Linked DNA regions of Homo sapiens. The protein of the gene in region 2 interacts with the protein of the main gene of each other region in a pairwise test. Each region holds a gene or a part of one and is shown on either strand. Other genes may lie near its edges. The genes, in order: SYNGR2 and SCARA3.

Region 1 (12,616 bases), on a different chromosome or scaffold from region 2:
CTTCGGGTTGGTGACTGCCCACTGGTTGGTGAGGAAGCAGAAACCAACAAACCACAGGAAGGTCCAGAGAGCTGGGGGAGGACGGGTGAAGCGTCAGTTCCATGGAAAGGGAGGGGCTTTCCAGGACTCTGGGAGGGGACGCGGGCAGGTAGGGCAGGGACCTCCCGGGGGAGCCTCCACACTATGGAGGGGAGGACTTGGAAGCCGGGCCGGGAGCCACCTCCAAAGTCCCCCACACTCGGGCCTTGGCAGGGTGGGCCACAGCAGACAGCCTAGGGGACAAAAGGGGCAGAGGCAAAGCCCATCTGCTCGGGTGTGCTGCAGGTCCACTCAGCTTCTAGCTACCCCAGGCAGGGCTGGTGCCATTCAAGCACGGAAAAACACTAGCTGAAAACCCTTTCCTAAAAATGCCCTGGAGGAGTGAGCTGCTCCCTGCCCCTCCCAGAGAGGCCGAGACCCTCCCAGCTGCGGAACCCTAGAGTTAATGCCTCCCCCAAGATCAAATGGAGGTGCCACAGGCAGATACCTGAGAAGAGCAGGTCACCAATGACCAGGTACTTGCGGTCAGTGGCGTTGCTGATCTGGGGGAAATACGCGTCGACCACCAAGAAGAAGGCCGAGGCCAGGAAGGCCAGCACCCCGATGGCACTGCCATAGCGGCAGGCATCCTCGTTGCGGTTGAACACGCAGTACATCTGCTTAGACTCGTGGGCATTGCTGTAGCCCTCACCATAGATGCAGGAGAACACGATCAAGGCGAAGACCTGCCGGGAGGGGAGGACCTGGTAGGGCTGGTGGCCGCCTGAGGGGCACACACAGCGGGGACCCTGATGGGGTGTACAGATGCTGGCCTCTCCCACTACTGCTGTCCCCTTTTGGGTTTTTGTTGTTGTTTGAGATGGAGTCTTGCTCTTGTTGCCCAGGCTGGAGTGCAATAGTGCGATCTCGGCTCACTGCATCCTCTGCCTCCTGGGTTCAAGCAATTCTGCCTCAGCCTCCCTAGTAGCTGGGATTACAGGTGCCCTCCACCACACCCGTATTTTTAGTAGAGATAGGGTTTCACCATGTTGGCCAGGCTGGTCTGGAACTCCTGACCTCAGGTGATCCACCCTCCTCGGCCTCCCAAAGTGCTGGGATTACAGGCATGAGCCACCTCGCCCAGCCTGCTGTCCCCTTTTGGAGGCTGACATCTTAGCCCCTCCAAACTTGTGGAGGTGAGCTGATGAGCAAAGTGCTTCCTGATGCACCCCAGGATGAGAATCTGCAGGCACCAGGGGGCCTGCCCCTGGGAATCCTGGACCGGGGAGGGGTGGGGAATGGGCAGGGACCTCCTAGGCAGGGGCTGCTCCTGCCCCATCGGCCTGCTGCAGGAATCATTCTGCTTAGGTACCTGATGGATGAAGGGCAGTCCTTCCATCCCCAGCCCAACCTCACCTTGAAAGAGGTTTAACCAAGACAGGCCAAGTCACAAAGACTACCCATCCCCCGTCACCTTCAGCCCAAGTCACTTCTACAGCACCCAGCCTCTGCCTGAACACCTTGGTGAAGGTGGACAGGCCCTCTTGGGAAGGCCATGCTGGCGCCCCTGTGTCTTCACCTCCTGGAACCCCTGGAACCCTCCCTGGTTCAGCCTGGCCAGCTGTCTCCACACAAGGACTTGCAGCCTCTGTGGCATCCTGGTCCCTCCCAGTCTGTCTCCCACCCCACAGAGGGCCCTGCATGCACAGGGCACTACAAGGGGACTAACTCAGGCCTGTGGATACAGCTCTGAACTCAGACACCTGGAGGACCCAGGGTGGATGTAGGGGAGCTCCAGCCCCTTGGGAAGAGCCCCATACCACCTCCCTAAACTTGAAGGCCACCACCCACGCCTGCTCCACCTCAGCAGGTGTGGGACAGGTCTGTGAGCATCAGGATCCCTCTGGGATGGCCCCAGGACTCTCCCCTGCCAGTCCTGCCCTGTTGTCCCAGGGAGCTCTCCATAGGGCTCTGGAGCTGGCAGTCACAGGCCCCGCCCCCAGATGGAGATGAAGCCGGATCTCCGGGATGATGGGAGCAGGGTGCCCATCCAGGACTCCTGGCACTGCCATCCCGACCCACTGGGCACCTGATTCTTGGACACAGCCCAGGACAGAGGCGATCAGATCCCACAGCCTGGCTGGGAGCTGGTGTGGGCGCCCTGGAGGACCTCAGAAGCTCCAGGCCCAGGCATGGTCTGGGCACAGCAGGCCCACCTCTGCCTGCCCCCTCATGCCACCCCCTCCAGCTTTCAGGGCTGGCTGTCCAAGAACAGGCCCCCTCCCCGCCACACACACACACACACAAAACCTGGTTTTGGAGGTATTGCCCACCTTACAGGGAGGGGGTACATCTTGGGGTCCCTCAACTTCGGGTGGGAAGGCGGACCCGTGGCCTGCCCCGAGTGGGAAGGACACCCTGTTTCCGGGCGTTGGGTCGCCCCCCGCCCCCTCCCTTACCCCACGTGGCTTCGGAAAACCCCGTCCCGGTGAACTCCCCAATCTGGGAGTCGCGGCGTGCGGGCCACCTGTCCGGGAGCCGCCCCCAAACTCCTCCCACTGCCAGCGAGGCAGGGGCCCGCTCCCTGCGGAGATCCGGACACCCCGCGTCGGGGCGCGAGGCTGGGGGTGGGGTGGGTGGCGGGACCCGGGACCGGGAGGGGACAGCGGGACAGACTGTGGAGGGCGGGAAGGCGGGGCCCGGGACGCTGGACGCCGGCCCCGCTCGCCGCCAGGCCCCGGACGCGGCCGCCGCCACCTGTCGCGCTCGTGGGCTAGGGGCCCCGCCGGGCCTGGCGACGGAGAGGGGGTCCCCAGGGTGCCCTCGGCCCGCCCTCCCCGGGCTCACCAAGCACACGGCGCGCGCCACCACCTGCGGCTGCGTCAGGAAGCGCCGCAGGTCGAAGGAGCCGCCCGCCTTGGCCGCGCCGTAGGCCCCGCTCTCCATGTCGCCGTCGCCGCCGCTGCCGCCGCCGCGGAACGCAGAGGAACCTGCCCGGCGCCCCGCCCGACTCCACCCGCCGGGGGCGTGGCCAGGCGCCGCTAGGGACCGAGGGCAAAGTGCGGCCCTCGCGAGCGGCGGGCGAGCCGCGGGACTGCGCTTCTAGAGGCGGGGAGGGGCTGTGGCCGCGGAGCACCCGGGTCCACCCCACCTCGGGGTTGAGGGGCTAGTCTCCGGGCCACGCCGGCCGCAGCACGGACCAGAAAGGGTCAGAGAGTCCCCCGGGAAGACGGACGAACTGAGGACCGCTCACCCTCTTTGCCCCTGCCCTCCCACCGCCTCCTCTAGGAAGCCCACCACCTACCAAGAACCCACCCAGGCTCATAAGCAACCCCTCCCCCATCCCACTGAAAAACCCAGGCCACACCCTGGAGCCCCTCCCTGCCTGGCCTGCCACTCTTTCCTCCTCTCTGGGGCTAAGCCTGGGGTAGGGTCAAAGACCCCCTCCCCATTCCTCCTGGTCTGGGCAGAGCCCCAAGGCTGTGAAGGGCAGTGTGGCGTCACACTTAAGATGGTGTGCAAGGCCGGGAGCGGTGGCTCACACCTGTAATCCCAGCACTTTGGGAGGCCGAGGCGGTTGGATCACCTGAGGTCAGGAGTTCGAGACCAGCCTGACCAACATGGAGAAACCCCGTCTCTACTAAAAATACAAAAATTAGCCTGGTGTGGTGGTGCATGCCTGTAATCCCAGCTACTCGGGAGGCTGAGGCAGGAGAATCGCTTGAACCTGGGAGGTGGAGGTTGCGGTGAGCCGAGATTGTGCCATTGCACTCCAGCCTGGGCAACAAGAGCAAAACTCTGTGTCAAAAAAAAAAAAAAAAAAAAAAAAAAAGATGGTGTGCAAGGCCGGGCGCAGTGGCTCACACCTGTAATCCCAGCACTTTGGGAGGCCGAGGCGGTTGGATCACCTGAGGTCAGGAGTTTGAGACCAGCCTGGCCAACATGGTGAAACCCCGTCTCTACTAAAAATACAACAACAACAAAAAAATTAGCTGGGCGTTGTGGTAAGCGCCTGTAATCCCAGCTACTTGGGAGGCTGAGGCAGGATAATTGCTTGAAACCGGTAGGCAGAGGTGGCCGTGTGCTGAGATCGAGCCACTACACCCCAGCCTGGGCAACAGAGCAAGAGTCCATCTCAAAACAAACAAAACAAACAAACAAACAAACAAACAAACAAAACCAAAAACGAAAGTTAGCGAGGCGTGGTGGCAGCTACTAGCAGTCCCAGCTATTCCAGAGGCTGAGGTGGGAGAATTGTCTGAGCCCAGGAGGCGGAGTTTGCAGTGAACCAAGATCACGCCTTTGCACCCCAGCCTGGGTGACAGAGTAAGACCACATATCGGCCGGGCGTGGTGGCTCACGCCTGTAATTCCAGCACTTTGGGAGGCTGAAGCAGGCGGATCACGAGGTCAGGAGATCGAGAACACCCTGGCCAACATGGTGAAACCCCGTCTCCACTAAAAATACAAAAATTAGCTGGGCATGGTGGCGCGTGCCTGTAGTCCCAGCTACTTGGCAGGCTGAGGCAGGAGAATCGCTTGAACCCGGGAGGCGGAGGTTGCAGTGAGCCGAGATTGCACCATTGCGACAGAGCGAGACTCCATCTCAAAAAAAAAAAAAAAGAAAAGACCACATATAAAAAAATATATATATGGCATGCAAACAGAAATGAAGTTTTCAGGGCGACAGGCAGATGGCAAAGTTTAATCCAGTTCCAGTTCAGCCCCCTCTCGCCTCCGTCCCTCTCTACCTCCATCCCAAGAAAAACCGGTACAGAGGGTCTGGTGCAGGGTAGGCTGGGGCAGGCTCTGTGTGTGTTGGAGTGGGGAGCGGAGGTTGTACAGACAGAGGTGTGGGATCACAGGCTGACTGAACCCGGAAGAATTCCAGACCCCCCTTTGCTAGTTGCAGGTGCAGATTAACAACAGCAGGTGTGCCAGGTGGGGCTCACAGTCAACCCAGGTGAGCTGGACCACGTGAGAGTTGAACCATAGGACTGGGCCACCAGGAGGTGGGGTGCCTCTCCAGGGAAGAGGGGAGCAGGTGGGGGGGAGGGGCTGGGCCTTTTCGCAGTGTGCCCCCCTCCCTCTCCCTACACCCAGAGAGATGTGACAGCACCTGAGAGGCGAGGACAGGGCCACACAGACCCCCTTATTTCTGTGACCCTCCTGAAGCCCTCACACCAACAGTGTCTGTGTTTGCTGAAGGCCACCAGCACTCCAAGAATCCCAGCTGGCAGGCTTTTTTCTTTTTTTTAAATAAATGTTTTTGTGTATATTTAAGGTAGACAACCTGATATGATGGGATTCATATAGATAATATAGATAGCACAAAGGTTCCTATAGCGAAGCAAGTTAACATATCCACCATCTCTCATAGTTACCCTTTTTTTTTTTTTTTTTTTTTTGTGGCAAGAGCAGCTAAAACACACTCATTTTGCATGAACTCCAAATACGAACAGTGCACGCTGATGGCCTGCAGTCCTCTGCCGTGCTTGGCTCTCTGGACGGTTCATTCTACATGGCTGCTGCTTTGCGTCCTCTGACCTCCCCATTCCCTATCCTGAACCCCCCAAACTCCTCTTCACTCAGACGGCGGGTGCTCCTGTAGAGCGGCAAGGCAAGGATGGGGCTCTCCAGGGGACCCTGCCAGTCCTCCATCTTCTGGTCACCACCTTGACAAAGCAGTGGAGACTCAAGTCAGGCAGGCTCACCTCCCAGCCATCCCCTCCCGAGGCGTCTGAGAGTGTTCGTTTGTTTTGAGACGGAGTTTTGCTCTTTTTGTCCAGGCTGGAGTGCAATGGCACGATCTCGGCTCACTGCAACCTCCACCTCCTGGGTTCAAGTGATTCTCCTGCCTCAGTCTCCCGAGTAGCTGGGACTACAGGTGCGCACCACCACGCCCGGCTAATTTTGTATTTTTAGTAGAGACGGGGTTTCTTCATGTTGGCCAGGCTGGTCTCGAACTCCTGACCTCAGGTGATTCGCCTGCCTCAGCCTCCCAAAGTGCTGAGATTCCAGGCATGAGCCACTGTGCCCGGCCTGCCTCTGGGAGTTTTATGGTGCCAAGCACATCAGTGCCCCAGCAGAAGAGACATGAGGCTTACTCACCCCACTAAATGAAGGCTGTACCCCATTTTACAGAAGGAAAAACTGAGGCTCGGCGAGGTGACATGGCTCACCCACGAGTCTGGCTTCTGGAAAGAACAGACTTGGTAGAAGTGAGATGGGAAAGTGCCAAGGACAGACTCCTGGTAGAGCCACGTAAGGGCCTGGGCCACGGGCAGAGGATGAGAACCAGGACACGGCAGTGTCTCCCAAACAAAGAGAGATGAGTTCACAGAGGCAGGGCTGGCCACCACCAAAGCCAGACAGGCAGAGCACACAGGCCTGTGGTGCCTGCACTCAGACACTACAAAGGCCTTGGTCACTTTACATGTTAGTAAAGCCATGGCCTTGGAGAGGGGACCCTGGGAGGCTGGGCCCCAGGCTCTTGCCACCACCTCGGAAAGACTGCCCAAGGTGGTTCTCACAGAAGGCAGGAGCTCCTGGTCCACCTTGGTCTCCTGGAGGCATCATCCCTGCAATCCCTGCTCAGACCCCATAAAGAACTTAGGAGACTGCCCTCCCAGAGGCCAGCAGACTGTGTTACAGGGCACCTGGGAGCACTGGTCAGGGTCCGATAACGCCTTGAATGTGTAAGCCTCAGTAGGCACATGGCACACAGTAGGTCCTCATAAACACCTTCGAGTCATGCGTAAGCGGTGATGGCCGCTCTTTGCCCTGGCCACAGCCCTGCCCTGCAAGCCCCACCACCTGAGCTCTGCAGCCAGGGCCCGGTTGGACCTCTCAGGCCATCAGCAGCTCTCCCTCCTCCCTGCATCGAGCACCCATTTCCTACCTGGCCCACGTGGTCCAGCCCAGCATCCTGGAGGTGATGGCCGCAGTGGAGGCAAGGCTGCCAACCAGCACGATGGTGGGTGCCCTGGGCAACCCTCCTGGGAGGGGGCGGAGGCAGCTGGGTTGGGCTTCCTTTAGGCAGGGGCCAGGGTGGGCATGGTTGCCTCCTGTGCCCTCTCTGCTCTCAGCAGTGGCCGGGTAGAGCTGTCCCACTTCCCATCGACCTGTGTCTTGGACACTAGCACCCTCCCGGCACAGAAGCGCCAGCTGCCCCTCTGGAAATCCAAGGGCCCTCTCACCTGGGGGCACCACTGTGAGGGCGCTGTGCTGGACATTGGCGTTGTTTGCAGCCTGGCACCAGAACCAGTCCGATGTCTGGCTCGGCAGGAAGGAGAAGTTGGCAGGCTGCCTGTGGCATGGTCTCTGCTGCAGGTGGACCTGCCCATCCTTCCCGATCAGGCTGTTGGTGATAGGTGGGCTGCCCGAGGACGCCTGGCAGATCATCTCCACCCTGGGGCCTGCCCCTCTGTCCTGCAGAGTGAAGTTGGCCCGCAGCTCAGACACTGGCTCTGGCAGGGTGGGAGAAGGTAGCACAGGCATGGCTGAGCGGTTTTAAACCCCTCCTCCTCAGTAAGTTCTCCTCATTACAAAATGCCTAATGAGCTTAGCTGTGGCTGCCGCCTCCTCCAGGCCGCCTTCTAGAGTTTGCCCTCCACCTTGTGTCTGGGCTGCTGCCCTACCTGCCGTGTGTACCACACAATTTCACATTTGGTTTTTATCTTATTCTTACTTTATTTTGAGACAGGGTCTTGCTCTGTCGCCCAGGCTGGAGTGCAATGGCGCGATCTAGGCTCACTGCAACCTCCGCCTCCCCAGCTCGAGCAATTCTCCCATCTCAGCCTCCCGAGTAGCTAGGACTACAGGTGTGCACCACCACATCCAGCTAATTTTTGTATTTTTTGCAGAGATGGGGTTTCACCATGTTGGCCAGGCTGGTCTCAAACTCCTGGGCTCAAGCAATCTTCTGCCTCAGCCTCCCAAAGTGCTGGGATTTTAGGCGTGAGCCACCGTGCCCGGCCTGGTTTTATTCTTGTGTAGCGTATTTCAGATTGCCAGACTTAGCAAATAAAAATACAGTTAAATTTTCATTTCAGATAAACAATGAATAATCTTTTACTATACGTATGTCCTATGTAAAATTTATCTGGCAACTCTATCATTCAGTCTCGTCTTTTTTACTGAAAGGCAAGCTACTTCAGGACAAAAACTGTCATGTAGAAGATTCTAGAATCCCCCAGGCCTTGAGCCTAATGCTCTAGACATTCTTACTGATGAGTAATCACCACCACACTTGCCACCTACTAAAAGGCTTTCATTTAATAGGTCCCCTGAAGTAGGACCTATTATTATTTTAGAGACAGGGTCTCTGTTGCCCAGGCTAGAGTGCAATGGTGTGATCACCGCTCACTGCAGCCTCCAACTCCTGGGCTCAAATGATCCTCCCACCTCAGCCACCCAAGTAGCTGGGACGACAGGCATGCACCACCATACCTGATTAATTTTTTAAAAAATTGCTATTGGCTGGGTGCAGTGGCTCACGCCTATAATCCCAGCACTTTAGGAGGCCTAGGTAGGTGGATCACTTGAGGTCAGGAGTTTGAGACCAGCCTGGCCAACATGGTGAAACCCCGTGTCTACTAAAAATACAAAAATTAGCCGGCATGGGGGCAAGGGCCTGTAGTCCCAGCTACTCGGGAGGCTGAGGCAGGAGAATCGCTTGAATCTGGGAGGCGGAGGTTGCGGTGAGCCGAGATCGTGCCACTGCAGTTCAGCCTGGGCGACAGAGCAAGACTCCATCTCAAAAAAAGAAAATAATTTTTTTGCAGACACAGAGTATCACTCTGTGGTCCAGGCTGGTCTCAAACTCTTGGCTTCAAAGGATTCTCCCACCTTGGCCTCCCAAAATGCTGGGAATACAGGTGTGAGCCACCTCACTGGCCTCTGTTATTATTTTCCTTTTGCAGATAAAGCAGTTGAAGCTCAGCGGTCCAATGAGTTGTTCAAGACCCCAGCCAGTAAGTGTAGGGATTTGAACCTTGGACCCGTTGGGCTGCAGATCCTGGGCTCATCTCCCCTAGGCTGTCTTTTCCTGGTGTTCTTAGGGTGCGGGCCAAAGGATGAATGGGGCGATTCCTTGTCCCACCCTAAGTCGGGCAACACTTCCTGGTTCCCATACCCCATAGCTCCCACCAAGAAGGTTACCTGAGTTACTATCAGGATGGAAACAGGAAGAAGGCAGGGTTTGGAGCTGGACAGAGTGGGGTTTGAAAGCAGCCTTGGCCACTTGCCAGCCATGTGGCCTGGGGCGACTTTTTTTTTTTTTTTTTTTTGAGATAGTCTTACGCTGTCACCCAGGCTGGCATGCAGCAGCACGACCTTGGCTCACTGCAACCTTCATCTCCTGGGTTCAAGTGACTCTCTTGCCTCAGCCTCCCCAGTAGCTGGGATTATAGGTGCCCACCACCACACCCAGCTAATTTTTGTATTTTTAGTAGAGATGGGGTTTCACTACGTTGGCCAGACTGGTCTCAAACTCCTGAGCTCAAGTGATCCTCCCGCCTGGGCCTCCCAAAATGCTGGGCTTATAGGCGTGAGCCACCACACCCAGCCCCTGGGGCAACTTTCTTAACTCCCCAGAGTTTTAGCTTACATAGCTATAGACCCAGAGGCTCAGACCCCACCCCTGACACTGCTGTGAAGATCAAGCGAAGTAATGCACAAAACGTGCCTAACTTTTTTTTCGTTTCTTTTTCTTTTTTTTTTTTTTGGAGACGCTCTGTTACCCAGGCTGGAGTACAGTGGCGCAATCTTGGCTCACTGCAACCTCTGCCTCCCGGGTTCAAGCGATTCTCCTGCCTCAGCCTCCTGAGTAGCTGGAACTACAGGTGCACCCCGCCACGCCCAGCTAATCTTTGTAATTTTAGTAGGAACAGGGTTTCGCCATGTTGCCCAGGCTGGTATCGAACTCCTGGGCTCAAGCGATCAGCCTGTCTCGGCCTCCCACAGTGCTGGGATTTGCGCCCAGACAAACGTGCCTAGTTTATCACCTTGAGGTCCGAGCTGACAACTGGGGCCCAGTCATTTCTGCCACCATCGGGCTCTTTCCCTCTGTGCCCTCAGGCCCCTGCCAGGAGACTGTGCCCTCAGGGCCCCAGCCAGGGACAGCAAGTCCTGATTAAAGGCCCCAAGGGACTGAGAATGGCCTTGGAGGTGGCAGCCTGTCCTTGTCCACACCCTCACACCCTGGCTCTCTCTAACCCCAGCAAGGTTCACAATCCCCACTCCCAGAGCTCCCCATTGATCTGCACCCCACCTGCCTCCTCAGCCCTGTGCCCCCCACCGCACTCACTGGACCACAGCTCCCAGTGCATCTGTAGCCTGGCACTGTCCACATGGGCACCTGAGGTGGAGGACGCCCAGCAGAAGTAGGTGAGCAGGTCTGGACTGGACTTGAGTGTGACGTTGAGGTTGAAGGAGGCCGGCTCGTGGGTCTTCACCACCTTCTTGGCCACCTTGATGTTCTTGGTTCCACAGAGGGAATAGGTGATGGGCGGTGGTGGCTGGGGTGCACAGCAGGTTATGAGCACCCAGCGGCCTTTGGGGAAAACTTCCAGGACTTTGTAGGCAATGGAGACCACAGGGGTAATTTCTGGGAGATGAAAAGGTCCAAGGAGGAAGAAAGAAACCGACATTGATCAAGCACCTTAAGAAGGTACTGGTTTGGCCAGGCTCGGTGGCAAACACCTGTAATCCCAGTGTTTGGGAGGTCCAGGTGGACGGATCACTTGAGGTCAGGAGTTCAAAACCAGTGTAGCCAACATGGTGAAAGTCTGTCTCTACTAAAATACAAAAATTAGCCGGGCGTGGTGGTGCCCACCTGTAATCCCTGCTACTCGGGAAGCTAAGGCAGGAGAATCTCTTGAACCAGGAAGGCGGAGGTGGCAGGTGGCAGTGAGCCGAGATCACACCACTGCACTCCAGCCTGGGCGACAGAGGGAGACTCAGGAAAAAAAGAAAAAGGATGCTGGGTTTAGCATGTTCTCTCTCTCTCTCTCTTTTTTTTTTTTTTAGATGGAGTCTTGCTCTGTCACCCAGGCTGGAGTGCAGTGGCGCGATCTCTGCTCACCACAACCTTCGCCTCCTGAGTTCAAGTGATTCTCCTGCTTCAGCCTCCCGAATAGCTGGGACTGCAGGCGCGTGCCACCACGCCTGGCTAATTTTTGTATTTTTAGTAGAGACAGGGTTTCACCATGTTGGTCAGGCTGGTCTCAAACTCCTGACCTCGTGATCCACCCGCCTTGGCCTCCCAAAGTGCTGGGATTACAGGCGTGAGCCACCGCGCCCGGCTGCAATTTACTTCTATAACAAACCTGCACATGTACCCCTGAACCTAAAAATTACAAATAAATAAGTGAAACCAGTAGACCTCAGAGTAAAGAAAAAAGAAAGAAAGAAAATACTGATTTAGTGGTTCCTCAAAAAGTTAAACAGACTTACCATATGACTCAACAATTCCAGGCCTAGACATACACCAAATAATAGAAAACAGGGACTCAAACAGATACCTGTACACACACGCTCATGGCAGCGTGATTCACCACAGCCAAATGGTGGAAACGGCCCAAATATCTATCAATGGACGAATGGGTAAATAGAATGTGGTTGATCCATATAAGGAATATTACTCAGCCTTAGAAAGAAATGAGCACAGATGCAGGCTGCAACAGGGATGAGCCGTAACAACATTCCACTAAACAAAAAGGCAGACGCAAAGGGCAACGGTTGCATGATTCCATGTGTGTGCAAAGTTCAGAACAGGAGAACCCACAGAGACAGAAAGCAGATTGGTGGTTACTGGGGCCCAGGGGAGGGGGAAATGGGGAGTAACTGCCTAATAGATACGGGGTTTCCTTTTGGGGTGATGAAAATCTCTCGGAACTAGATAGCGGTGGTGGTTGAGCAACACTATGGATGCACTAAATGCTGCTGAATTATCACTTTTTTTTTTTTTTGAGACAGAGTCTTGCACTGTCGCCTCCCGTGTTCAAGAGATTCTCGTGCCTCAGCCTCCAGAGTAGCTGGGATTACAGGCACCCACCACTACGCCTGGCTAATTTTTGTATTTTTAGTAGACATGGGGTTTCATCATGTTGGCCAGACTGGTCTTGAACTCGAGACCTCAGGTGGTCTGGCCACCTCAGCCTCCCAAAGTGCTGGGATTACAGATGTGAGCCACTGCGCCCGGCCCACTTTTATTTATTTATTTAAAGACAGAGTCTTGCTCTGTCGTCCAGAATGGAGTGCAGTAGCACGATCTCAGCTCACTGCAACCTCCACCTCCTGGGTTCAAGCGATTCTCCTGTCTCAGCCTACCATGTAGTGGGGACTCCAGGCATGCACCACCATGCCCAGCTAATTTTTGTATTTTTAGTAGAGACGGGGTTTTTTCTTTTCCTTTTTTTTTTAAATCATATTAAACTTGTAGTTTTATTCAGGTTTGATTTTAACAAATGTGTCGGGGAGAGAGCCTGCAGGGAAGGGTAAAGCCCGTGGGGGCAGGGCTCTCCCAGATGCCTGAGGAGGGGGCAGGTCCCCTCCCCTCTCCTCCTCTTCCCTCCCCATCTGAAGGGGTTTGGGGA
Region 2 (12,343 bases):
TAGGAGTATAGGTACACACCACCATGCCTGGCTAATGCAAGGACATTTCTTAAAGCTGCCGACTGCTGTAGGCATTTGCTATAGGATTGTGTTAGCCCACTAGTACTTTGCCTAAAACCAGGTACTTCTGTGTCCAGCAAGATCACCAAGCCTCAGTGGAAGCTTTGTAGCAGCCCTACCTGGACCCAGCTCTTACCTCGTAGGATGGTGACATTGCGAAGGATTTCTCCATGCTGTGTGTCCACTGCCTTCATCTCCTCCACGATCATGGAGAGGTTCCGGACGTTGAGGTCCAGCCGGGCACTGAGCAGGCTGAAGCGCTCCCGGAGCAGGTCTGTGGTGCCCAGCATGATGGAGACAGACTTGTTCAGGTAGTAGAGCTCCTCGGCATGGGTGTGGAAGCCCAGCGTGCAGGAGAGCCGCACGTCATCCAGGTACTTGAGCATGCTGTGCACGTGGTTGTCGGTGGCATTGATGTTGGTGAAGATGGTGCCAATTTCAATCTCGTGAGAAGCCATGCGTCCTTCCAGAGACTCAAACCTCTCCACAGTGCGGTTCTGGGCGTAGTGGGTATGGTACTGAAGATCATGCATGTTCTCTTCGTGGTCATCCAGGAAGGACGAGATGTTATCCAGCTGCAGCTGCAAGCCCATGACCTGGAGTACCAGGTCGTGCATGCTCTCTGAGTTCTGGCTGATGCGCTGTGAGGAGGCCCCCAGGGTGGCCTGGATGTTCTTGACCGCCTCTCCAGTCTTGGTGGAGGTGGTGCGCAGGCCGCTGAAGAGCCGTGTGTAGTTCTGCCAGTCGGTGACAATCTTCTGGAGGGTCAGGGTCTCCTCGTCTGTCTTCCGCTGGATCCCGTGGATCCACTCGGAAGTCTGCCCCACGGTGAAGTTGATCTGGTGCACTGCAGCCTTGACATCGTAGCACTCCTGGGTGAGGTCCTTCAGAGAGAGGTCCAGGCCAGCTGTGGTGGCCTGCCAGCCTCTCACCTGGGCCAGGAAGAGCCCCAGAGACTGGTTAACCTGGTGGATGGAGAAGGAGCAACTGCCCATCTCCTGGGAGATTTGTCTGCTGGTGGTGGAGAGCACCTCCTGGGCCTGTAAGGTCTGGTCCAGCTGCACCTCCTGGGCCAGAAGCAGCTTCTGAATTCCCTCCAGCTCCTCCTGCAGTTTTCGGATCTCTGGCCCCAGCTGCCCAGCTTCATGGCAGAAAGAGCAGTTGTTCAGGGCTTTCGGATCTTTAGGGGAAAGGGATAACAGTTTGAGTTGCTGAAGGGCCAGGGTACGACGCTTCCTCTTTAAATTAAATATTTCAGAGCATAAGAAATTGGTTAGTAGCTTCCCAAACCAACTTCCTTCCAGAAGTCCTGTTATGAATTCCTTCTTGAAAAAGCCTTGCCACCTCTATGGAATCTCATTTTTACCGACTTTCTTGACTCTGATCTGAAATGTAGCATTTAGGATGTTTCCTCCTTCTCACCACCAAATTCTCAAGAATGTATCTTCATAATTTTTCTTAGGTGGCCAGGAACTTCCCATTTAAACTTTATTTAAAAATTTCTCCCAGTATTTTTATATCTGTTATCTTATTCAATCCTCTCAAAATAATACATTCAATACAATCAAGAGGAACGAGGTGCAGAGAAGTGGCTTGGTAAATAGCCACGTATATTGGTGCCAGACCAGAACCTTCTATTTGCGTCAGATAAGACCACTCTAAACCCTTCTATCATTGCTCCTTCTGTCTCATTCTCTCTTAGATTGTTCCAGGTTAAAGCAGGGGATAAAGAACATCAAGAATTGTGGCATGACCTAAGCAAATTAACAGAAGAACAGAAAACCAAAGACCACATGCTCTCACTTATAAGTGGGAGCAAGACTGAATACATGTAGATGCTGGGTGCAGTGGCTCACGCCTGTAATCCCAGCACTTTGGGAGGCAGAGGCGGGCGGATCACGAGGTCAGGAGATCGAGACCATCCTGGCTAACACAGTGAAACCCCATCTCTACTAAAAATACAAAAAATTAGCCGGGCATGCTGGCTGCCGCCTGTAGTCCCAGATACTTGGGAGGCTGAGGCAGGAGAATGGCACGAACCCAGGAGGTGGAGCTTGCAGTGAGCCGAGATCACACCACTGCACTCCAGCCTGGGTGACAGAGTGAGACTCCGTCTCAAAAAAAAAAAAAAAAAAGGTTGAATACATGTAGACATAAAGATGGCAACAATAGACTTCAGTGCATACTAGATGGGAGAGGAGGGAGGGGGTTATGGGCTGAAAAACCACCTATTGGGTACCTGGGCTCACTACCTGGGTGACAGGATCATTTCTACCCCCCCAAACCTCAGTGTCACGCAATATAACCAAGTAACAAACCTGCACATGTGTCCCTTAATCTATAACAACAAAAGTTAAAATTATGGAAATAGATAAATAGATGGCACATATTAAAAAAAAAGAAAAAAGAAAAGAATCGTGGCACAGCTTAAGGCAATGATGAGGAAAGGGTTGACCTGGCAGGAGGTTTTGCAAGGTCTTGAAACTCTCATCATTTCAGATGCATGAGGCTATTTTGGGAATGGACTATCTTTGGCTTCCTTCTCTGCCTGTAGACTCTGGCTAGATCTGTGGTCCACCCAGAATCCCCTGCTCCAGTCCTGGGAGTATCCCAGGGTAGCAGCCCTCCTCTAATGGATGGAGATCCGGCTGGGGAGGGAGCAGGGAGCTGGGGATAGCCTCTGTGCCTAGAAGGCTGGTGAAGGTTGCTTGGTGCTGGGGCACTGTAGCGTGGGGAGGGCACCCCTGCCCCACCCTGAAGATCACTGCATCACAGTCATCAGCCCATCTACTTACCCAGGCCCTGGAGATTTTTCTGCATTAACACAAGCTTCTTGTCATAAATAGACTGGGTCAAGGAGATGTCTTCGGAGAGAGAGTCCACTTTTCTGAAAACTGTAGGGAAAACAGATGAGAAGCTGGGGCAGGGTCTAAGCTCAGAGAAACAGCAGTCATTCCTTGAGAAGGCATCTTTATCAGCTCCTCTGCAACCAAAACCTTTCACCCTTCTTCTCTCAGGCTTCTTCATGGCGGTTAGGGAAGATACTTCTTATGGCCAGAGTTTGCCACAAGGCCCTTTAGAAACAGAATAACTCACCCCACACCCCACATGTTAGAAATAGGACCTGATCACAGAATGGAACAGGGAAAATTCAGAAAAAAAATTAAAAAAAAATTATTCTTATTCCTACCACCCAAAGGTTGCTGCCATCAGTGTCTTCATGGATTTCTTCTAGTCTTGTCTACATTGATAACCATTCTTCAGCTACATAGATATATACAGTGTTCCCCTCTTACCTGCAGGGGATACATTCCAAGACCCCCAGTGGATGCCTGAAACCTCAGTGTATGGAACCCTAAATATGCTATGTGTTTTCCTATACATACGTACTTAAGATAAAGTTTAATGTATAAATTAGGCCTAGTAAGAGACTAACAACAGCTAATAATAAAATAGAACTATTAGAACAGTATGCTATAATAAAAGTTATGTAAATATGGTCTCTTTGTATCTGAGAATATCTTATTGTACCATACTCATCCTTCTTCTTGTGCTGACATGAGATGACACCATGCCTACGTGACGAGATGCAGTGGGGTGAATGACATAGGCATTGTGACTTAGTATTGGGCTACTACTGACCTTGACCATATGTCAGAAGGGGGATCATCAAGCCATGATGTTGCCGATTGACCTAGGGTAACTGAAACTGCGGATAAACGGGGACTACTGTACTTTCTTAGGCAACAAAAGCAAAACTGGGATGTTCTGAACATCTCATCTGTTTTCTTTGATGCTGCTTTATCAGTATCATGTCACGGACATTTTTCCATCCAGGGTTAAATCACTTTAAAATCACTACTTTTGGTATCTGCATGGCACTCTATATAAATAATACAGCAATTATGTAAGAATCTCCTACTGTTGAGGACACTTAAAGTACCTCTTCTTCTGAGCTCATAAATAAAACTTGATATATAAATATAAGTAATGCTTAATTCTAGAAATAATCCTTATATATGATGGTTATGTGTATATGATAATTCTCTTGGGATAAATTGCTTAAAATAGAATTATGGGACCTAGGGTATTAACATTTTTGAAGTCCTTGATACAAGCTGCCAAACTGCTGCCCAGAAAAGATTACACCACTTTATACCCCACGGGCAGCCTTGCACTCTACTAAGGGGGCCATGTTGGCCAGTGGTTAGAGCACGTCTTGGCAGCAGCAGGACGCCTGGCTTTTTCCAGCGGGTGCCTGAATGGGCCTGGTAGTGAGGGAGGGCATGGGTTGTTCTGAGGTTCAGCAAGATGCTTCCCACAGATCCTCTTAAGGTCAAGTACAAGGGGAAAGAATTAGCACCACCAAGAGCACTGAGTAACACAGCTTCTAGTCCTAGTTTACATCACATTTGTTGGGTGACTTTGGGCAAGTCAGTTACCCTTTCTTGAGCTCAGTTCAATCATATGTAAAATGAAAATGTGGAGCTCGATGACTCTAAGGCTCTCATCAGCACCAAAATTCTATGCTTTCAAATTATTTGGAATCTCCAGGCTCCAGTTAATATTGTACATCTCAGAGCTGTCAGTAGATTTACTTAATTAGTAACAGCAACATGTTGAGAGAGTTTGGGAATAAGCACATGCTGTTACATGAGACAAGCACTGTACAGTTTACAATAGTTATGATTCCATTTGAGCCTCCCTACAATTAAGATTTCATGCATAGATGAACAAAGACACAAAGAGACTGAGTGACTTTGATTCCTATTCCTATGCTTCATTAATTCTACTTCCAAGCCAACAGCCGAGGCTCACTCCACTCCATATAATTCATTCACCTGTTCATTTCTTTTTTCTTTTTTTCTTTTTCTTTTTTTTTTTTTGTGAGACAGTCTTGCTCTGTCACCCAGGCTGGAGTGCAGCAGTGTGATCATGGTTCACTGCAGCCTCAATCTTCTGGGCTCAAGTGATCATCCCACTTCAGCCTCGTAAGTAGCCAGGACTACTGGCATGTGCCGCCAGGACTACTGGCATGTGCCACCATGCCCAGTTAATTTTCAATTTTTTTTTTAATTGAAATGAGTTGGGGTCTCACTATGTTTCCCAGGCTGGCCTCAAACTCCTGAGCTCAAGTGATCCTTCCACCTTGGCCTCCCAAGGTGTTGGGGTTACAGACATGAGCCACTGCACCTGGCCTTGCTTATTTCTTCATTGTGCATCTCAGGCTTAATAATTATATATTTGCTTTTTAAGCCATTTTTCCTCACTTTTTAGACATGATTTTTCTTCATCCTTATAAAATTATGTTTTATGTAGACAATATGGCAAATAGTACATATACATCACTTATAAATAAATAGGTATATTTTGGGGCTGTGACGCTAACAATTTTTTCTTTTCTAACATTTAATTTAAAAATTTTTCAAACAAAAGAATAGAAGGACTTGTACAGTGAAGACCTATATGCCTATTGCCTAGATTCTACAAGTAGCATTTTTCTGTATTTATTTTATATTCATCCATCTCTTTCACCCATTCATCAATCCATGTAAATTTTTGAATGCATTTTAAATGAATTTTTTACTGATGGGATGCACGGTCAAAAAAGTTTAGGGATCACTGCTCTAGACCAGGGGTGTTGCAAATTATGGCCTGCAGGTGAAATCCAGCCTAATGCCTGATTTACAGGAGTTGCCACCCCCATTCATTTACAGACTGCTTGTGGCTGCTTTTGCTCTGTGACGAGTTTGGTTGTGACAAAGATTGTATGTAACCTGAAAAGCCTAAAATATTTACTATGTAGCCTTTTACAGAAAAAAATGGCCATAATCAGCTCTAGATTATAAGCTCCATGAAGGCAGGGTCTGTGTTTTACTAAGCAGTATACTGCCCAGTATAGAATATAGTTCTTGGTCCCCAGTATGCTCTTGATTTAGAAAAAAAAACTTGATTAAAATGAATAGAGTTGGTTTGTAATGTCTGCTGACTGATTTTCCCAACCCTCTGGACTTTGGTCACAGTTCTGGTTGTAAAGCATTGACCAGTCTATCCACAGACTCACACATACACCATACACACACACACACACACACACACACACACGCTTTACAAATCTATAATCATTCTTTCAACAAATATTATTGGGCACCTGCCATTTAGGCCAAGATGGTGCCAACACTGTTCTAGGGACTTGGGATACCCAAGCTGGAGGCAAAAACAAAAAAGGAAACCCAAAGGTCTCCCGTGGTTCACAAACACACACTCCTCACCCAGGTTGTTCTGATCCTCTGTCCATTCACTCTGGATCTTGGTGCAAATCCTGTCCCCTTCCCAGGTCTGTACCCTCCCGTGAGGAATGGGGCCAGCCTCCCGCTCCAGCCTGCCAGGCTGACTCATGGATGTTATGCACATGACAGCGTCTCACATTCTGTCATCCTCTCTGAAACTCTTCGGTGCCTGCGCTCTTCTCTGGGCCTGATCCTGTGGCTCTTGGAGCTTTGATAATGGCCCCAGGTGCCTTGAGTGCTGTGAGCAGAGGCCCTAAAAGGGGTGACCAGAAATCTTGACAAGTTCTCTGACAGCAAGTTTGTGGCCTCTGATAGGCAGACCGTGGCTCCTTTCCTCCTCTGGCCTGGGATTTTTGCCACTTTCTGAAATGCCAAACCTTGTGAATTGATTTAGCAGACACAGGTGGTGATGGGCTTGGGAAGTTCTGAAATCCTTGGTTCTTAAATCTAGCTGCGGACTGGAATCCCCTGAAGGGATTTACAAATGACTAAGGCCTGGGTCCTACCCAGAGATGATGATTTAATTCATCTGGAGTGAGTGGAGGGGGTACTCTGGCACTAGTATTTTTAAATGCTTTCCAAGGGATTCCAGTATCCCCTGACAAGAGGGAAGAACCATGCCCCTTGATGGTGAAATGTAATTGACACAACTCAGTGTTCCCAGTGCCTGGCACAGAGCAGGCTCCCGGCTTTTGTTGGATTAATTAATGCCTTCGGATTACTGGAAGACGACTTGTGTCTATTCAAATCATTAGTATGCTGGCCTCTTGCCTTCAAGCTAAGAAGGCTGGTTACCGAATATCTCCAGCCAGGGCCAGGACGAGGGGCCTCTCCTTAGGGATGTGCTCAGGCTCAGGGTCTGCATGAGAGCAGGGGGCCCCCCTCGGAGCCTCGACTGCCTCTCCCTACTCCTGGCCTTGTTTCTAAAATCCAGTAGATTGGAACAAACAAGCCTACCAGAGCCCGGATTTTCAAAGTTTGAAGCTAAGAGTGGAATGGGATTGCACTCTTAGCACTCTTAGTGGAATGGGATTACAAACATCAAATTTGTTGTAACAAGTTTACCACAATCTGTCAGCATCTGGAAGGCAGAAGTGACTTGCCTCTGGCTGTGTGCTGTGACCTAGGTCAACTACTACAAACCCTAATGTGTATGAGAAGAACCAAACCTCAGATCCCTGGGTCTCACCTGCAGGACCCCCCAGATTCCTTGGTCTCAGCAGGTCTGGCTGAGGGAGACCCAGGAATTTGCATTTTAACAAATACTGGAGGTGAAATTGCTGCAGGTAGGCATCCAGCCTCACTTTTAGAAACACACAGACCATAAAAGGGGGCTTAGAAGTCACTCAATCCAGTGATCTCAACCCTGGGTGAACAACAGAATCATCAGGAGAGTTGAAAGATACCGAATTAATTCCACGATCGGGGTGGGGCCTAGACATCGACATTCTTTAAAGCTCCAAGATGGCTGTAACATGGAGCTGAAACTGAGAAGCACTGACCTGGTCGTATCATCTCATTACACCAATGGGAAAGAAGGGGTCCCCAGAGGCAGGTGCCTTCCTTAAGGCCACAGATCTTGTCAGTTGCCAGTGTCTGCAGTTTGCATTAGGCATAGAGATCCCCTAGCCAGGAAGATGCTGGCTCTGGGCCCTGGGATACAGATGTCAAGTGTTTGTCTTTGCAGGGGAACTTTTGGTGCTGGATCCCTGATCAGACACCCCCCTGCAGCCCGGGGTGGGAAAGCCCCGGACTCACCCAGAGAGGCCAACACAGCCACGGCCACCAGGAGCAGGGCCAGGAAGAGGTAAAGAATCCGCACCGATGTGTGCAAAGATAGGTTCTTCTGGCAGCGGCTGCAGCGGGGCCCTGGCCGGCCTGTGGGGGACACAAGGAGGACAATGGCTTAGGCCAGGGGCCCAGGTTGGAGCTGAAGGGTCAGTTCCATGTTCCTGCTCTGGTCTGTCTCATCACATTCAAACCAGGCTCAGAAGGGGAGCTGTTCTCGACCCTCATTCTCTACCTGTCCTACCTCCTTTCTCTAGGTGCTGGTGCTTTCTGGAATGCAGGAGACCGAGTCAGGACTTCAAAGAACAGCCCCCAGCACTACCATCATCCTCTCTCCATGGTGTCTTCATTCGGCCCATGGGGAGGGGAAACACCTCTTCCCTCTCCATTGGTCCTACTGAGGACCCACAGGATGAGCAGCCAGCCTGAGGCCCCACTGAGTGACCAACTTGTCTGGGCTTGCCCAGGATCTTCTGGGTTTTAGCACTGAAAGTCTCCCATCACAGGAGCTCCTCAGCATGGTGCCAATCATCCTGGTTTGCTAAGATTGTCTGGGTTTTAAAACTGAAAGCCTGCCGGGTACAGTAGCTCATGCCTGTAATCCCAGCACTTGAGGAGGCTGAGGCAGGGGGATCACTTGAGCCCAGGAGTTTGAGGCCAGCCAAGGCAACATAGCAAGATCCCATCTCTATTTTAAAAAAGAAAAAAGAAAATGAAAAGCCCCACACCCTGGGAATCCCCTCAGTCCCTGGCAAACCAGAATGTTGGTTACCAGTCCCCAAACTTTTCAGGGAACCAGAAGTTCTCCTGGAAACCAAACAAATAGTCATGGTCCACCAGTTGAATTGTTGGCATGGAGGAAAGAGGGAACCAGATGGTCCTGAATACACAGACAGGTGGCCAACACCCAGTGGGAATGCAGTGATGGCCCAGCTGCGAATTCCTAAGGTGAACTCACCTTTAGCCACACATTCTGACTACTAGGACGTTTAAAAATCCTGATGCCCAGATCACACTCCAGGCCAAATAGGAATTTCCAAGGGTTGGTCTCATGCATCCATGGGTGATTGCAATGAAGAGCCAAGGTTGAGAACAACTGCTCTACTCTACACCAAAGTCACTGAGACCCCATTCCAAACAGCAGTTCAGGTGGCATGGGACACAATGAAGGGGACAGTTCCAGGCCAGCTAGAAGACAGGCCCCAGGGACAGGGTATGTAGCTCTGGGAGATGGCAGAAGTCCCTGATGGGTCTCGGGAGGACCCCAGGAGACAGGTGGCACTTGTGTCAAGCTTTGATTTCAGGCCAAGCACAGTGGCTCACACCTGTAACCCCAGCAATTTGGGAGGCTGAGGCGGGCAGATCACTTGAGGCCAGGAGTTTGAGACCAGCCTGGGCAACATAGCAAGACTCTTGTATCTACAAAAAATAAAAAAAATTATCCAGGCATGGTGGTGCGTGCCAACAGTCACAGCTACTTGGGAAGCTGAGGTGGAAGGATCACTCGAGCCCAGGAATTTGAGGCTGCAGTGATCTGTGGTTGCACCACTCATACTAGCCTGGACGACACAGCAAAACCATGTCTTTAAGAAAAAAAAACATTAAACTCCTTTGACTTCACTGGTACTGCACGCCCAGGGCCGTGAACTCTGCCCTTTCACCATCCAGGAAGCAGTGGGGAAAGGACACCCAGGCTTTTGAAACCACCTAAAGAGACAAATCTCTCACTGGCCTGGGGATGGAGACAGGGATCTCTCAGCCCAGAGCGGAGATCAGGGGCAGCCCCAGAGTCCTTACCCTTCTGGGTGCATGGGAAGGTCGGCATGTCCTCGTCGTCACCCGCCAGGTCCTCTTCTGTAACGCACAAGGCATCTCCATCGCCGCCGGCCGACCTCACTATAATGAAGCCAGTGCCGTCAGACCCAAAGCCATCCCAGGCCTCTCCAGCAGCCCCTTTTATTTACCTGTCCCCATATCCCATGCCCACCTCTACCCCTGAGCCAGCTCACTGAGCTCCAGGTGGCCTGATGTAAGCTGCAAAAAGGGAGCGGACATAAGAATCAAGTGGCTGAGGAGCTGGGATGTCCCACCCCTCTGGGTGAGGAGAGCTCCCCATTTTCCACACGCTGGGAAAGACACATGGGCCACCTCAGTGCCTGCTCTCTCTGGAGCTTGCTGAAACCCATGAAGGTGGAGTAAGGAGAAATAAGAGCTGGCTGCTTGCTCTGGCTTAGCGTCCTTCTATTCCCCAATACTTGGTCACCGAAGCAGAATTCCTCTTCTCCAGGGACAAGGCTGAATCTGGCCACAGCATAGTCCCCACCAAGACTCTGCCTCCAGCATAGCCAGGAGGAGGCCAGAGGGAGGAGGAGATGACAGGATGGGCGCAGATCCCTGCTTCACACAATCTCACCTAGGACCCATCAGGGTGTCAAAGGGCCTTGGGCGGAGCAGGTCTCCTTTCAGAGTTTGATTCGGTGCTTATTCTCTGGGACAATATGGTCCCTAACTAAAACCTAGATGATGTATCCCTCACTCAGAAGATTCCTCTAGTTCCCCAGACACCCTTCACCTCCCACTCCCTGTAAGTAAGACCTGGCCTTTTCTTCCCTTTCTCCTTCCTTCCATCCTTCCTTCCCTACTTTCCTCCCTCCTTTCCTTACCTCTTTCCTTCCCTTTCTCCTTTCCTTTCCTTTCCTTCATTCCTTCCTTCCTTTCCTTCCTTCCCTACTTTCCTCCCTCCTTTCCTTCTCTCTCCCTCCCTCCCTCCTTTCTCTCTTTCTCTCTCCTCCCTCTCCCTCTCTCTTTATCTCTTTCTTTGCCGTTTTGTTGGGTCCTTAAGGATTCCCTGCTTTCTTTCACCTTTAGCTATGCACTTAGCAGTATGTCTGTAGTTTATTTAATGTCTACATTTTATAGCCCGAGAATATTTTAAGCTGGTAATGCTAGAAGTAGAAGCTTCAAGTTTTCCTTTTTTCCTTTTTTTTTTCTTTTGAGACAAAGTCTCACTGTGTCGCCCAGGCTGGATTGCAGTGGTGCTATCTCGGCTCACTGCAAGCTCTGCCACCTGGGTTCACGCCATTCTCCTGCCTCAGCCTCCCGAGTAGCTGGGACTACAGGTGCCCGCCACCACGCCCGGCTAATTTTTTGTATTTTTAGTAGAAACGAGGTTTCACCATGTTAGCCAGGATGGTCTCCATCTCCTGACCGTGATCCACCCACCTTGGCCTCCCAAAGTGCTGGGATTACAGGCGTGAGCCACTGCGCCCTGCCTCCTTTTTGTTTTTAATGCAATAAAGTGCTGGGTTTTGCCTCAAGGCAATCTTCACAACATCTTATAAACTTTACAGTCCAGAGAGTCACATTTATAGACAAAAAGACTGAGGTTCAGGGAAGTGAAGAATGTTGCTTAGCAGCCCACAGAATAGAAGTGGTGAAGCCAAGATGTGAACTCAGAAATCTTTTCTACCATACCTACAACCACCTTGAGGTAATGAGCAAAGGTTCCACAAAGTGCTAAGAAACCTTGCTTCTGCAACTACAAGGTCAGCGGGTAGACAAGAAGAGGGTGGTACATGAATGAGCTGCGGAGCCTCGGGGGCTCCTGACCATGATTGATGGGCATCTTGAGCCGCATCCTAGACCTGTGAGTACCTGAGGCCCAAATGCCATGCCACGGCCATTGTGATCAACATAGGAGCTGAGATGCAGTTGGCAAGGCGCTGTTGGTAAGCAAAGGCAGCTCTGAATGGACTCAGTAGGGAGGGGACTGAGGGTGACCCCAAATTAAAAATGCCACCATCAAGACCACGAGTGCCCTCTGCTCGGCCTTCACGCATGGCTTAAACGTCACTTCCCCAGCAGTCTTTCTTGAGCTCTCAGACTAGCGTAAGGCCCTGTTGCCCACACCTCACATGCTCTGTGCTCTCCCTAGGAGAATGCTCCTCTCCTGTCCATGCGGCAGCTCTCTTCCCCAGCGCTTCAGTTCCAAGGGCAGGGACTATCTGTCATGTTCACTGCTTTATCCAACATCCCTAGCACAGTGGCCGGCACAGAGAGCCGGCACAGAGAAAGGCTCAACAAACACAATTTCAAATAAACCAATGAAGGATTTGGTATTAGGCTTCCCAGCAGTTCTATGCCTGCCTGTGGAGCTCTCTGGGGAGCTTTCAAGGGTCCACCCCCAGAGATTGAATTAATCTGGG

Evidence for each region.
Region 1: the proteins of SCARA3 (region 2) and SYNGR2 interact in binary tests that used the Homo sapiens proteins (3 or more experiments, as listed by UniProt).

The regions. Positions count from the first base shown.
Region 1 is NC_000017.11:78,158,965-78,171,580, reverse strand, and holds the start of SYNGR2 (synaptogyrin-2), read right to left. Parts: upstream 3,001-12,616; 5' UTR 2,965-3,000; coding exon 2,866-2,964; intron 765-2,865; coding exon 527-764; intron 72-526; coding exon 1-71. Other genes in the region: C17orf99 (protein IL-40), read right to left, coding at 6,915-7,486, 10,327-10,626. UniProt on the Homo sapiens protein: May play a role in regulated exocytosis. In neuronal cells, modulates the localization of synaptophysin/SYP into synaptic-like microvesicles and may therefore play a role in the formation and/or the maturation of this vesicles.
Region 2 is NC_000008.11:27,647,393-27,659,735, reverse strand, and holds part of SCARA3 (scavenger receptor class A member 3), read right to left. Parts: intron 10,035-12,343; coding exon 9,936-10,034; intron 8,229-9,935; coding exon 8,109-8,228; intron 2,955-8,108; coding exon 2,856-2,954; intron 1,241-2,855; coding exon 197-1,240; intron 1-196. UniProt on the Homo sapiens protein: Seems to protect cells by scavenging oxidative molecules or harmful products of oxidation.